Linked DNA regions of Homo sapiens: all the other regions are linked to region 3. The links come from fine-mapping of genetic effects on gene expression. A gene starts in region 3. Each other region holds a variant in brackets. All regions are shown on one strand. Distances are from middle to middle.

The links. PIP is the estimated chance that this variant, and not a neighbour inherited with it, causes the effect. A credible set is the group of variants that fine-mapping cannot tell apart.
Region 1: its variant is the best candidate, but not a certain one, in a credible set for the expression of MLLT10 in whole blood (INTERVAL, PIP 0.77).
Region 2: its variant is the best candidate, but not a certain one, in a credible set for the expression of MLLT10 in whole blood (INTERVAL, PIP 0.54).

The regions. Positions count from the first base shown.
Region 1 is chr10:21,623,871-21,628,059 of GRCh38, forward strand. The region is part of intron 8 of MLLT10 (MLLT10 histone lysine methyltransferase DOT1L cofactor); the gene reads left to right. It also overlaps the pseudogene HNRNPRP1. Among named protein-coding and RNA genes, the nearest start is that of MLLT10, 92 kb to the left of the region's middle. The variant A/G (reference allele first, on the strand shown) is at 2,171.
Region 2 is chr10:21,832,192-21,836,380 of GRCh38, forward strand. The region is part of intron 8 of DNAJC1 (DnaJ heat shock protein family (Hsp40) member C1); the gene reads right to left. Among named protein-coding and RNA genes, the nearest start is that of DNAJC1, 170 kb to the right of the region's middle. The variant G/A (reference allele first, on the strand shown) is at 2,401.
Region 3 is chr10:21,532,639-21,536,827 of GRCh38, forward strand. It overlaps MLLT10 (MLLT10 histone lysine methyltransferase DOT1L cofactor), which reads left to right and starts at 1,594. Exons shown (of 23, transcript NM_001195626.3): 1 at 1,594-1,882; 2 at 2,007-2,166. The coding sequence starts at 2,007. RefSeq lists enhancers at 1,163-1,876, 2,592-3,304, 3,568-4,081 and silencers at 1,242-1,771, 1,782-1,851, 1,962-2,301, 2,442-2,531.

The sequences.
Region 1 (4,189 bases), 91 kb after region 3:
CTGATAGTGGTTAGAAGAAAATGGAGTTATGTTGACTTTTAATCTATGGTTCTTTTTTTTTAATAGATTTTTTTAGTTTTATTGAAATCTTACATGAACAGGAAATTGGAAATACAATCACATCAAAGAACAAATTGTCATGGCTTTTGACGTTTAAGCCAAACAAATTTTGTAGGGCAGATTTCAAAATGGTGTGAAGTTATAACAATTTAAAAACACAGTTAACCTACTTCTAAAAATGCAAAACATACGATCATAGGTTATTTTCAGTATAAGAAAACTTAAATGTGTTTGCTTTAATTTCTTAAAACTACTAAGACATAGCACTAGCTTGTATTTTTATTTACAGCATACTCCATACTCCTATGTAATCTATCCTAGATCCAAAAAAATGAAATTCTTCAAAACCACAGGTTCTGCAAAATCATGACTTAACAGTGTGTTCAGCTTGTTTTGAAGCTAAAATGAAGCCCGAAATGATAAAAACATAACTCCCAGAATAAGGGAACTCTGTAAGCCCAATAATGTCCAAGAGCATTTATGAAAAGAGGAAAAATAAAAAGGCCTGAGTATATACACAATAGTGATTTCTTCAGCCCAATACAAATGGCAGCAAATTGCTACTTAAAGATGAAACAGTTAAACAAAATTTTTTTTGAAGAATGTAGATCTAGAGCCAGTCGTATCTTGCCATTATCATTTTCAAGCCCTTACTTGTCTGCTTCCACTGTTGCCCATAAGTATCCTGATAAAATTCCTGGTTGTCATTATTGTAACCATAGTTACCAGAATAGTCACCACCTTGCTGAAGCGGCTGCTGAGCGATGGGTTGAGAGACCCAGTTCTGTTGTTTGTTGGTCTGACGATGCTTGGAATCAGGTTGGTTGTAAGCATCTGCCTTCTCTTGCGTCCTACATTGTCCCCTGATTGCCCTGAGATCCACGGGAACCACGGCCACGGCCTCTCTGCTGTTGTGCAGGACCCCCTCTGCCACCCCTACAGCCTCGTGGTGGTCCCAAAGGTGCCCCCTTTTGTGAATAGCCAGCTCTACCTCTTGGAGGTGGTGCTCCCCTCCCCCTTGGTGGTGGTGAAGCACCCTGCCCTCCCCTTCCTCCTCTTCCTCTTACTGCATAGCCACCATCATAGCCATAGTAGGGAATCTTCGTAACCTCCTTGATAGATGTGGTAATCATAACTGTAGTAATCTTCATGCCATAGTAATCTGGAGGTTAGCCATATCCACCTCTCCCCCAACCTCTAATCGGAAGCGGCATGCGAGGAGGAGGGTGTAGTGATAATCTTCATATGCAGTGCTTCTGGAGGCCTGTCTAGCAGCTTGGCGCTCTTTCCTTTTCTTGTCTGGTGCCTTGGCTAAGACTATTTCAAGTTCTTCCCCTTCTGTTTCTTTGCCATTCATTTCATCCATAGCCATAACAGCTGCTCGTCTGTCTTCAGAATGAACAAATGCATAATCTTTCAACTTATTTACTCTTTGGAGTTCTCCAAATTCAGAAAATGACTTTTCCAATATTTCGTCTGTGCCCAAGTTTCTCACAAAGAATACTTTTACCTTAGCCATGACTTCTGGATATGGTTCTTCACAGGGTCAGCCCATTCAACTGTAACTACATTTCCCCATACTTTTACTTTTCCAGCATCTGGCTTGTACTGCTGACTTGTGATCCTCACATTTAAGGAAGCAGAACCCCCATTTCTTCTTTTTGTCATCAGGTTGATCATAGAGAATGACGTCCACCAAACCCTCTGTGACTTTACTGAATTCTTCCAGAGTGTTTTCTTTAGTCTTATTCTTCAGAATGGATCCAACAAAAGTCTGTTGTTTGCCACAGAAATGCGCACTCCATGTTGTTTACCAGGGCGAATTTCATAGCTGTCACAGTTTCACAGCTTCCTGTGCAGCTTCCTTTCCACAGAAAGTGGTAAATGCCTACCCTCTATTCTGACCAGACAGTGGATCTATGATAAGACGTAGATCCCAAATGGGACTGGCCTTCTCAAAAAGGGGCACCAACTCATCCTCATATACATCTCTTGGTATTTTACCTACAAACACCTCTGTTCCAATTCTAGGTTGCACACCAGAGTACACACTGTTTGGTGGAGGCCCACCATACTTCCTCTGTCCTGTGGTTACATTCAGAGTATAATC[A/G]TTTCTCTCAAGCAAGGCCTTGATCTTCACTTCATCAGGTCCCTTTGTGGACTCTTGCACCTAGCTCCCCTGTTTCTCTCTCTGCCTGTAGGTCTTCATAACTCCACATAAAAATGCACTTTTGTTCTGAACATGTGATAAGTCACTTTCCTTGAACTGCTGTAGTACAGACAGAGCTCCTTCTTTATTAAATTCCCTGAGAGCATCAATTGCTCTTTCATCAAGATCGATACAAGCTATCAATCCAGGGCAGAGCAGGGGCTGGTGGCTGGGCCCGTGAGAACCAGTGCAAGGCATTTTGAAAATGACTAGAAATCTCGCACGCGTGCCACCCCCCAAGTCTATGATTCTTATGTTTACATGGCAAAGAAGCTGAAGGGGAAGCAGGTACGTGTGCAGAACGGGAGACCAAACATGAGAGGCAGCCTTCTAATCTATTCCTGCAAGAATCAACCCAGCCTCATGAAAGCTGCATTAATACATTCATGAGGGTAGTAGTCCCGTAACCCAAACGCCTTTTAATGGCCCCATCAGCTCTCAATAGTGTCACATTGGCAAATTTCAACATGAGTTTTGGCAGGAACACACCACACTTAAACCATAGAATAGGATTACTCACCTCTTTGAAGAGAGCTAGACTACTTTCTTCTGTGGCCCTCAAAGGAATAAAACTCTCAGTCATATCATTGGAATGACTTCTCTTTGTCTTTGTAAAAGTTTTCTAGCATTGAGAGTTACCTGGTACCTGCCCTTTTTGTGTACTTTCCTTTTGGAATTTTGTGCTCAAGTTGAACCTTTCAGCATCTGTATATGTGAAGAGTTAAGAGAGGACAGGTCTTTTCAGGAACATCAGTTTAGAATGTGAGGGTGTGTTGGGTGAGACTGAAGAGTATGGTAACATGAGACTAGCTAAGAAGAGGCTAGTTTATGAAGAATTTATAAGCAGTTAGAGTTTTAGACTTCGTCCTTGGGCATTGAGCCAGGCAGCCAGTAGGATTAATTTTTTTTTTTAAACTTTTGGTTTTTTCAATAGTTTCAAACTTAAAGTTGCAAAAATACTACAAATAATAATGCTGTACTACTCACTCATTCCAAAAATGTTAACATTTTACCATATTAATGTTACCATGTCCTTCGCTCTACCCTCCTTTGCTATCTCTCTCACTCTCTTTCTCCTCTACTCTCTGTAGAATCTTTCTGAACCATTGCAGGGTAAATTACAAATAACAATGCCTCTTTAGCCCAAGTACTAAAGTGTATAGTTTTAATTAAAAGGGGAATTTCCTAAACAATTACAGTACAGTGATCAAAATCAATAAATTAATATTGTTACAGATTATTATCTAATCTACAGATCATATTCAAATTGCAGCCACTGATGTCATCTACACCAAAGGGGGAAACATTTTTCTCTTCCATGTCCAGGATCCAATCCAAGATCACAAGTTGCATTTAGCTGTCATGTCTATTCAGTATTTCCCAGTTTGGAATATGTCCTTATTCATTGTCTTTTGTGACCTTGACATCTCTTAAAGTCCTATTTCAGGTTATCTGAGGTATTGCCTTCTGTCTTTCTTAGGTCTTAAAAAAGGGGTTTGTAGCCATACTCTTTTTTAAATCTTCATACAGCTGTTTTCTAACAGTGGCCTAGATTTTATCTTTCTCTGGGAGCCATTCTTTGATTTGAGCATTGTTTGCTATCTGCAGAGACTGGAAATTTTTAAAACCAGCAAGTCTTGGCTCTTTTTTTTTGGTCAACAGTCTTTTCATTAACTTATTTCTGTACTCCTGCTTTTTACTATAAACAGTAAGAAATAATTAGACTGCATCTTCCACCGAATACCTAGAAATCTCCTTGTTAAATTATGCAACTCATTAAATACATTTTCTATTTTTCATGTTACCACAGGCAAGGTTGTGCCTAAACTTTCAGTTACTAATTATGAAGTATTCAGCTTCTTCCAATTTTCAGTTACCTTTTTCTCACTTTGGTTTAAGCCTTTAGTAGCAGCCTGCTAA
Region 2 (4,189 bases), 300 kb after region 3:
GCAACATTCCACTTTTTCATGTCCTATTTTAAGTCACAGTAATCTTCTCATTCTCCTTACTTTGGGAATATTCCTTTTCTGGTTCTGATTCCTCAATTTCTCTCCTAGATGTTTTTCTTCTATGTGCTTCCCTGGTTTTAGCCATCAAATGTATGTCAAGGTCCCCAGTAGTTACATCTCTAGTTCTGATTTCTTAAATTCTACATTAACAACTATCTGCTGAATGTTTCCTGATGTATGTCCCATTTGCATCATAAACTTAGCACATACCAAACTGATTACATATCATTCTCTCTGCCAAACTATCACCTCCTAACCATGCCCCATATTTTTTTAATGGTAACTGTCTCTTCCAATCACCAAGTAGGCATTTTTACTTCTTCCTCCTCCTTATTGCATTATCCAATCAACTGATTTCTTGAATCCTGAACATTCAAGATTTGTCCAGTCTCTCCCCTGGTCTCTATTTCTGTTAGCTACTTCACTCAGGAATTTATTATCTCTTACTAAGACTATTGCAAAAATCTTCTAATGGGTCCTTCTCTTCCCTTTGATCTTATATACTTTTGCAGTGAAATATTTCTAATATGTGGACAACATCACTTCACCTTCTGTATGATTTAAACACTCTAACCTCTCATTCAAGATCTATGATTTGGCTGCGACCTACTTTTACAAACATATTTTCTCTTTATCATTTCAAGAATCCTTTGACCCAGCTAAACTAAATTACTCACTGTTCCTGATGATATGCTCTGAGTAGTTCTGTCTCAAGAGTGATTTATTCCTTAGTTTCTGGAATGTTTTCCCCACCCCACTTCTAAATCTTTCATAAAAATTTTTGGTTTTTTCCTAGGTGGAAGTAATCTTGCCATCTGCTAAACTGCAATAGTACTTTAAACCTCTCACAAAGTACACCTCAAAATATGCTTATTTAGCTCTTTGTCTGACCTTTTCAACTACATGATATAGTGACAGTGGTTAAGAGCATGAGTTCTGGCTGGGCGCAGTGGCTCAGGCCTCTAATCCCAGCACTTTGGGAGGCTGAGGCAGGTGGATCACAAGGTCAGGAGTTTGAGACCAGCCTGGCCAACACAGTGAAACCCCATCTCTACTAAAAATACAAAAAATCAGCTGGGCATGGTGACGGGCGCCTGTAATCCCAGCTATTTGGGAGACTGAGGCAGGCGAATCAATTGAACCTAGGAGGCGGAGGTTGCAGTGAGCCGAGATGGTGCCATTGCACTCCAGCTGAGGCAACAGTGTGAGACTCTGACACAAAAAATAAAATAAAAATAAATAAATTTAAAAAAGCATGAATTCTGAAACCAGTGAAGTGGGTGTGAATCACGGCTATGTCATGTATTAGCTAAGCAGTGTGGGAGAATTTACCTTGCCTCTCAGTTTTCTCCTGTGTAAAATGAAGAAAATAATAGCATCTACCAAATGGAGTTGCTGTGAGAATCAAATAAGTTAATACACATGAAGTGCGCAGAACAGTACCAGGCACACAGTAGCCACTTAATAAATGTTAGCTAATATTCAGGACAAAATTCAGTATGTCTTATTTATCACTGTACCACCCACTCACACTCTTCCACCAGCAGATAGATGGCAACTGTTTTTTATTAAAAAAATTACCACCAACAAAATACTATATAATGTAAAGCATTATACAACCAAATACAAGATTAAGTGGCACAGAAATGTGCTACTAGAAATCAGACAGGGGAAAGATCACTGTAGGGTAAGTTTGTAAAAAAAAATACTTTATGAAAGAGGGGTTCCCCAGGCCAGGTGCGGTGGCTCACACCTGTAATCACAGCACTTTGGGAGGCTGAGGTGGGCGGACCACGAGGTCAGGAGATCGAGACCATCCTGGGTAACACGGTGAAACCCCATCTCTACTAAAAATACAAAAAATTAACCGGGCACGGTGGCGGGCGCCTGTAGTCCCAGCTACTCGGGAGGCTGAGGCAGGACAATGGCGTCAACCTGGGAGGTGGAGCTTGCAGTGAGCTGAGATCGTGCCACTGCACTCCAGCCTGGGCGACAGAGCAAGACTCCATCTCAAAAAAAAATAAGAAAGAAAGAAAGAGGGGCTCCCCAGTGAAACGTTGTTTAAAAGACCTAATGTGGACTAAGGAGAGGAGCCAAGATGGCCGAATGGGAACAGCTCTGGTCTACAGCTACCAGCGTGAGCAACGCAGAAGATGGGTGATTTCTGCATTTTCAACTGAGGTACCGGGTTCATCTCACTGGGGAGTACCAGACAGTAGGTGCAGGACAGTAGGTGCAGCGCACCGTACGCGAGCCGAAGCAGGGCGAGGCATCGCCTCACCCTGGAAGCCCAAGGGGTCAGGGAATTCCCTTTCCTAGTCAAAGAAAGCAGTGACAGAC[G/A]GCACCTGGAAAATCGGGTCACTCCCACCCTAATACTGCACTTTTCCAACGGACTTAAAAAACGGCACACCAGGAGATTATATCCCGCACCTGGTTCAGAGGGTCCTAAGCCCATGGAGTCTCGCTCATTGCTAGCACAGCAGTCTGAGATCAAACTGCAAGGTGGCAGCGAGGCTGGGGGAGGGGCACCCGCCATTGCCAAGTTAGTTGTTTGATTAGGTAAACAAAGCAGCCAGGAAGCTCGAACAGGGTGGAGCCCACCACAGCTCAAGGACGCCTGCCTACCTCTGTAGGCTCCACCTCTGGGGACAGGGCATAGACAAACAAAAAGACAGCAGTAACCTCTGCAGACTTAAATGTCCCACTCTGACACCTTTGAAGAGAGTAGTGGTTCTCCCAGCACGCAGCTTGAGATCTGAGAATGGGCAGACTGCCTCCTCAAGTGGGTCCCTGATCCCCGAGAAGCCTGTCTGGGAGGCACCCCCCAGTAGGGGCGGAATGACACCTCACACAGCCGGGTACTCCTCTGAGACAAAACTTCCAGAGGAACGATCAGACAGCAGCGTCTGGGGTTCACCAATATCCGCTGTTCTGCAGCCACCGCTGCTGATACCCAGGCAAACAGGGTCTGGAGTGGACCTCCAGCAAACTCCAACAGACCTGCAGCTGAGGGTCCTGTCTGTTAGAAGGAAAACTAACAAACAGAAAGGACATCCACACCAAAAACCCATCTGTACGTCACCATCATGAAAGACCAAAGGTAGATAAAACCACAAAGATGGGAAAAAAACAGAGCAGAAAAACTGGAAACTTTAAAAATCAGAGCACCTCTCCTCCTCCAAAGGAATGCAGCTCCTCACCAGCAAGGGAACAAAGCTGGATGGAGAATGACTTTGATGAGTTGAGAGAAGAAGGCTTCAGACGATCAAACTACTCCGAGCTAAAGGAGGAAATTCGAACCAACGGCAAAGAAGTTAAAAGCTTTGAAAAAAATTAGACGAATGGATAACTAGAATAACCAATGCAGTGAAGTCCTTAAAGGACCTGATGGAGCTGAAAACCAACACACGAGAGCTACGTGACGAATGCAGAAGCCTCAGTAGCCGATGCGATCAACTGGAAGAAAGGGTATCAGAGATGGAAGACGAACTGAATGAAATGAAGCGAGAAGAGAAGTTTACATAAAAAAGAATGAAAAGAAACGAACAAAGCCTCCAAGAAATATGGGACCATGTGAAAAGACCAAGTCTACGTCTGATTGGCGTACCTGAAAGTGACAGGGAGAATGGAACCAAGTTGGAAAACACTCTGCAGGATACTGTCCAGGAGAACTTCCCCAATCTAGCAAGGCAGGCCACCATTCAAATTCAGGAAATACAGAGAACACCACAAAGATACTCCTTGAGAAGACCAACTCCAAGACACATAATTGTCACATTCACCAAAGTTGAAATGAAGGAAAAAATGTTAAGGGCAGCCAGAGAGAAAGGTCGGGTTACCCACAAAGGGAAGCCCATCAGACTAACAGCGGATCTCTCGGCAGAAACTCTACAAGCCAGAAGACAGCGGGGGCCAATATTCGACATTCTTAAAGAAAAGAATTTTTAACCCAGAATTTCATATCCAGCCAAACTAAGCTTCATAAGTGAAGGAGAAATAAAATCCTTTACAGACAAGCAAATGCTGAGAGATTTTGTCACCACCAGGCCTGCCCTAAAAGAACTCCTGAAGGCAGCACTAAACATGGAAAGGAACAACCAGTACCAGCCACTGCAAAAAACATGCCAAA
Region 3 (4,189 bases):
TTATGTAGTCTTGTAGTCACCTTTTCTAAATGCACTATGTGAATTCTCATTGTTTTAGTGTATATTTTAATTGCCATTACTTTGTATATCTCAGCTTTTAAAACATCTGAATTTGCTATATATGCTCTCATTGTGCTGTATACCTATTATCACTCTTACACAGATTTCTAGCAATTAATTTGAAATAGAAAAACAGCCATGATACCTTTTCTAACCCCCCTTTATCAGAAGAACATTTAGAAGGCTTTTAAAGCCCAAACCATTATATTATCTTTTGGCGACCGACTAGGAGAACTTGGGTTCTCTATGCTTTAGCACTGTGAAAGTGCATCTTCCAGATCAGCACATTTATAATGCGAATTGCTGATAAAGAACCATTTTGTACCTGCAAGGTATTAATCAAAAGTCATGAATTCGCCTTTTAACTGGGCTTGTCATTTAAACAATCTATGCATAATTCTGATTTCATGCGAAACTTTTCTAATTAGACATTTTTTGCTTAAACATCAATATTGGGCTTTACGGATGCATAAGGAATAGGCAGACAGTGGAAGATTTTAGTTTAAAAGTGCTCAGCATCCAGCTAATTAATCTATGCAGATAGGCCTAATCCATTTTCCATTTGTTTGTGAGGTGGGAGCTCTCATCTTTCTGCCACTTTTAAATGACCTCACATTTCCAAGTATAAATTTGGAGAAAAGACCCGGATCAGAGGAATCCTCCATCAAAACTGGACGCCACTGTCTGATGGCGTTAATTATGTTTTAGCGACTGACTAGGAGGGCTAGAGTTCCTTCTTCCTTTTGGTGTAATACAACTGCATTTTCCGGATCATCGTATTATATTGCTAATTCCGGATAAACCACCATTTGTCCTGCACACCGAGCTGAGGGGCGCCTTGGCGTTCCCTCTCCGAGTGCAGCCCTAACACAGGCTTTTGACCTTCAGCCTGGAATACACTTTCGTTTGTCATTGGGGCCCACGTAGTGCGAAAATGGGCGGCAGATTTGGTAGGACTTCCAGCGGGTGAACTTTGGGAAGAGTCCAGGACGTGAATTTAATGGGTGGAGTGGCTGCGGCAGCACTGTGAAGTTAGCGCGGCCAACTGCAGGAAGCCATGCTTCATTACACCCTTCATGGAAGCTGGCACACTCGCCCCACCCTCGTTTTCCACGGGCCAGTCTTGGAGGAAAAGGCCAGCAGGTAGGTTCCCAGGGCACGGAGATGATGCCCCCGGGGACTCCCCTCTGGCGATTCTGAGAAAACCCCTTCCCAGCCCTGGGCGTCCACCTCCCCCGCCACCTCCCAGGCCTCTTCCCGACGCTCACACGCGGCCCGCGCCACCAGCGCTGCAGAGGGCGGCCCTAACGTCCCCGCCCCCGCGTGCGCGCCCCCGCGCCCGTTCATTCCGGCCTCCGCGCGCCGCCGGCTCCCCTCGCGCCCACCCCCAGCACACCTCGGCGGCGGCGAGCGGCGCGGGGGAGGGGGACGGGGCCCCGGAGGTAGGCCGGGGGCAGCCAACAGGCCGCGGCAGCGCGCACGCAGGGCTAGCCTCGCCCAGGCCTCCTCCCTCACGCCGGCCGCAGGACGGGCGCGCACGCCAAGTGACGCTCCGAGGAGGAAGCGCAGCCCCCTTCCCCTCCCTCGCTGCCCCTGGCCCAGCGGGAGCCCCCCCTCCCCCCAGTGCGCCTGTGCGGAGGCCCTCTTGATTATGTGTGCCCTCTCCGGGCGCCCGCGTTAGCGGCCGGGTGGAGGTGGGGAGGGAAGACGCTGAGGAGGAGGAGGAGGCGGAGGAGGCGGTGGAGGGGAGGTGGGGGGAATCAGCAAGGACATGGCTCCTGACTCCTGTGCGGAACGTGAGTGACTGAGCGGCAAAGCCCGAGTGAGCGAGCGGTGGGCTGCCGGGCCGGGCGGGGGGCGCCGGGGCGGGCTCGGGGGGCTGTGTGGGGGGGAAGCACTAATCGGCTTGCATGTGTTTTTTAATGGTCCCCCCAACTCCCTCTTAGATGGTCTCTAGCGACCGGCCCGTGTCACTGGAGGACGAGGTCTCCCATAGTATGAAGGAGATGATTGGAGGCTGTTGCGTTTGCTCAGACGAGAGAGGCTGGGCCGAGAACCCGCTGGTTTATTGCGACGGGCACGGCTGCAGCGTCGCGGTGCATCAAGGTAAACACCCAACCGCCCGCCGGGGCGCGCCGGCCTGCGCCCAACGGTCACCGCCGCCCCCACCTGGGCCGCAACCGCCGGCGCCCCCGCCCCGTGCCGCGGCCGCGGGAGGGACGCGGAGGGTCCGCGGCGGGGCGCGGGGGGTGTGGGCCGCGCATGTGGGAGAAAGTGCGTGTGGCCCGGACTGTCATGTGATTCCGCTCTCACTCTCTCAAGTGTCATTCGGCCGCCGCCTGCGCCTGGGGCCGGGGTCTGCTGACTCGGCGGGGCGGGGCGGGGCAGGGCGGCGGCCGCGCCCTCGAGATCTGGGCCGGGGTGGGGGCGGGGGCGGGGGCGGGGGCGGTGCGCGCCCTTCCCGGGGTTCCCGGGGCCACGGGGGTGGGTTTGGGAGAGTGGAGCGCCCTCTTCTCCCCTGGCCTGCAGCCGCCTGTCTGCCGCAGTGTTTGGAGACTTCCTGTGGCGTGGAGACGGGCTCGGGAACGCGGCGCCAGTGTGGGGAGGCTGGGGGTCGCCTTGCCTCTTTAGATGGGGAGGGATGCGGGGCCCGTTGCACCCCGAGCCAGAAGGCTCGGGCCCTGCCGCCGCCGCCCGGTAGCTGTCTGCGGAGGAGATGGCGGAGTCCGTTGCTGACCATGCGGGAGTGGCGGGGCTGCTGCAGCGCCTGTGGGGTGGCCGCGGCAGGCCACCACCAGCCTAGGTGGCTGAAGAGGTGGCGGTGCCAAGTCACTTTTGGGGAGCCTCTTAGTTTATTTCTGGTTGTTAACAATTGATGAGGTTTTTGGATATACAAGAAGGCCGAGGACACTAGTAAGATACTTTTCTGGCCTTTGAAGTGGCCGACTTTTCCCCATTTCACGTGGTAAGGAATCCAGGACAAAACAGTCTATATTCTTTTTTGGTGGCTCCATGTCCCTTCGCATTTCTGAATCTGGCATTAAGCGATGCATATGTTTTTAGTAGTCTGTTGGAAAGGACTACCACCAAAAGGGAGACGAAAATTTGAACATCTGCTAAAGTGCATTTTGTAGAGAAACGAATGTCACACTTGGAAAGGGAGACTTTAGAAGCAGTGGTGATGATTCTGAGGTAGTGTACTTACTCTGAGAATGCTGTTTATTCCCAGACTTTTATTTTTTTACTTTTTATTTTGTTGAGACGGAGTCTTGCTCTGTCACCCAGGCTGTAGTGCAGTGGTGCCATCTCAGCTTACTGCAACCTCTGCCTCCTGGGTTCAAGCGATTGATTCTCCTGCCTCAGCTTCTTGAGTAGCTGGGATAACAAGCACACCCTAGCACACCGGCTAATTTGTATTTTTTAGTAGAGACGGGGTTTCGCCATGTTGGCCAGGCTGGTCTCAAATTCCTGACCTCAGGTGATCCTCTTGCCTCGGCCTCCCAAAGTGCTGGGATTACCGGCGTCAGCCACTGCGCCTGGCCCTAGACTTTTAAAGAAGAGCCAAGTTGCATGTCTTGCTTTTTTAGGGAGTGAATACAATGCGTGTCAAACCAGATACTGATTTTAAGGTCATCCCATGTTCATTGGCATTTTGAAGGCCAATGAATTTCTTATGAATTGGAATTTCTTATGAATTGGATGATAAACTATCAAAATTTGATAATTTCTATGTCCCAATATAGAAAATTTTTATTCAAATCTTAAATTTTCCTTCCTAGAAGTACACCTGAATAAAGTTTTTGGGCAATGATGCTGTGTTTTGGACACCTATGCTGTGTTTTTTGACGGATAGAGCATTTATAGTGAGACACATTTTACAAATTCTGTTTTTTTGAGACAGGGTCTCACTTTGTGGCTCAGGCTGGCATGCAGGGTGCTATTACAGCTCACTGCAGCCTTGACCTTCCAAGCCATCTTCCCACTTCAGCCTTCCCAGTAGCTGGGACCACAGGCCTGGACAACCATGTCGGGCTAATTTTGTATTTTTGGTAGAGGTGGGATTTCACCAGGTTGCCCAGGTTGGTCTTGACTTTTTTTTTTTTGAGACAGAGTTTTGCTCTTGTTGCTC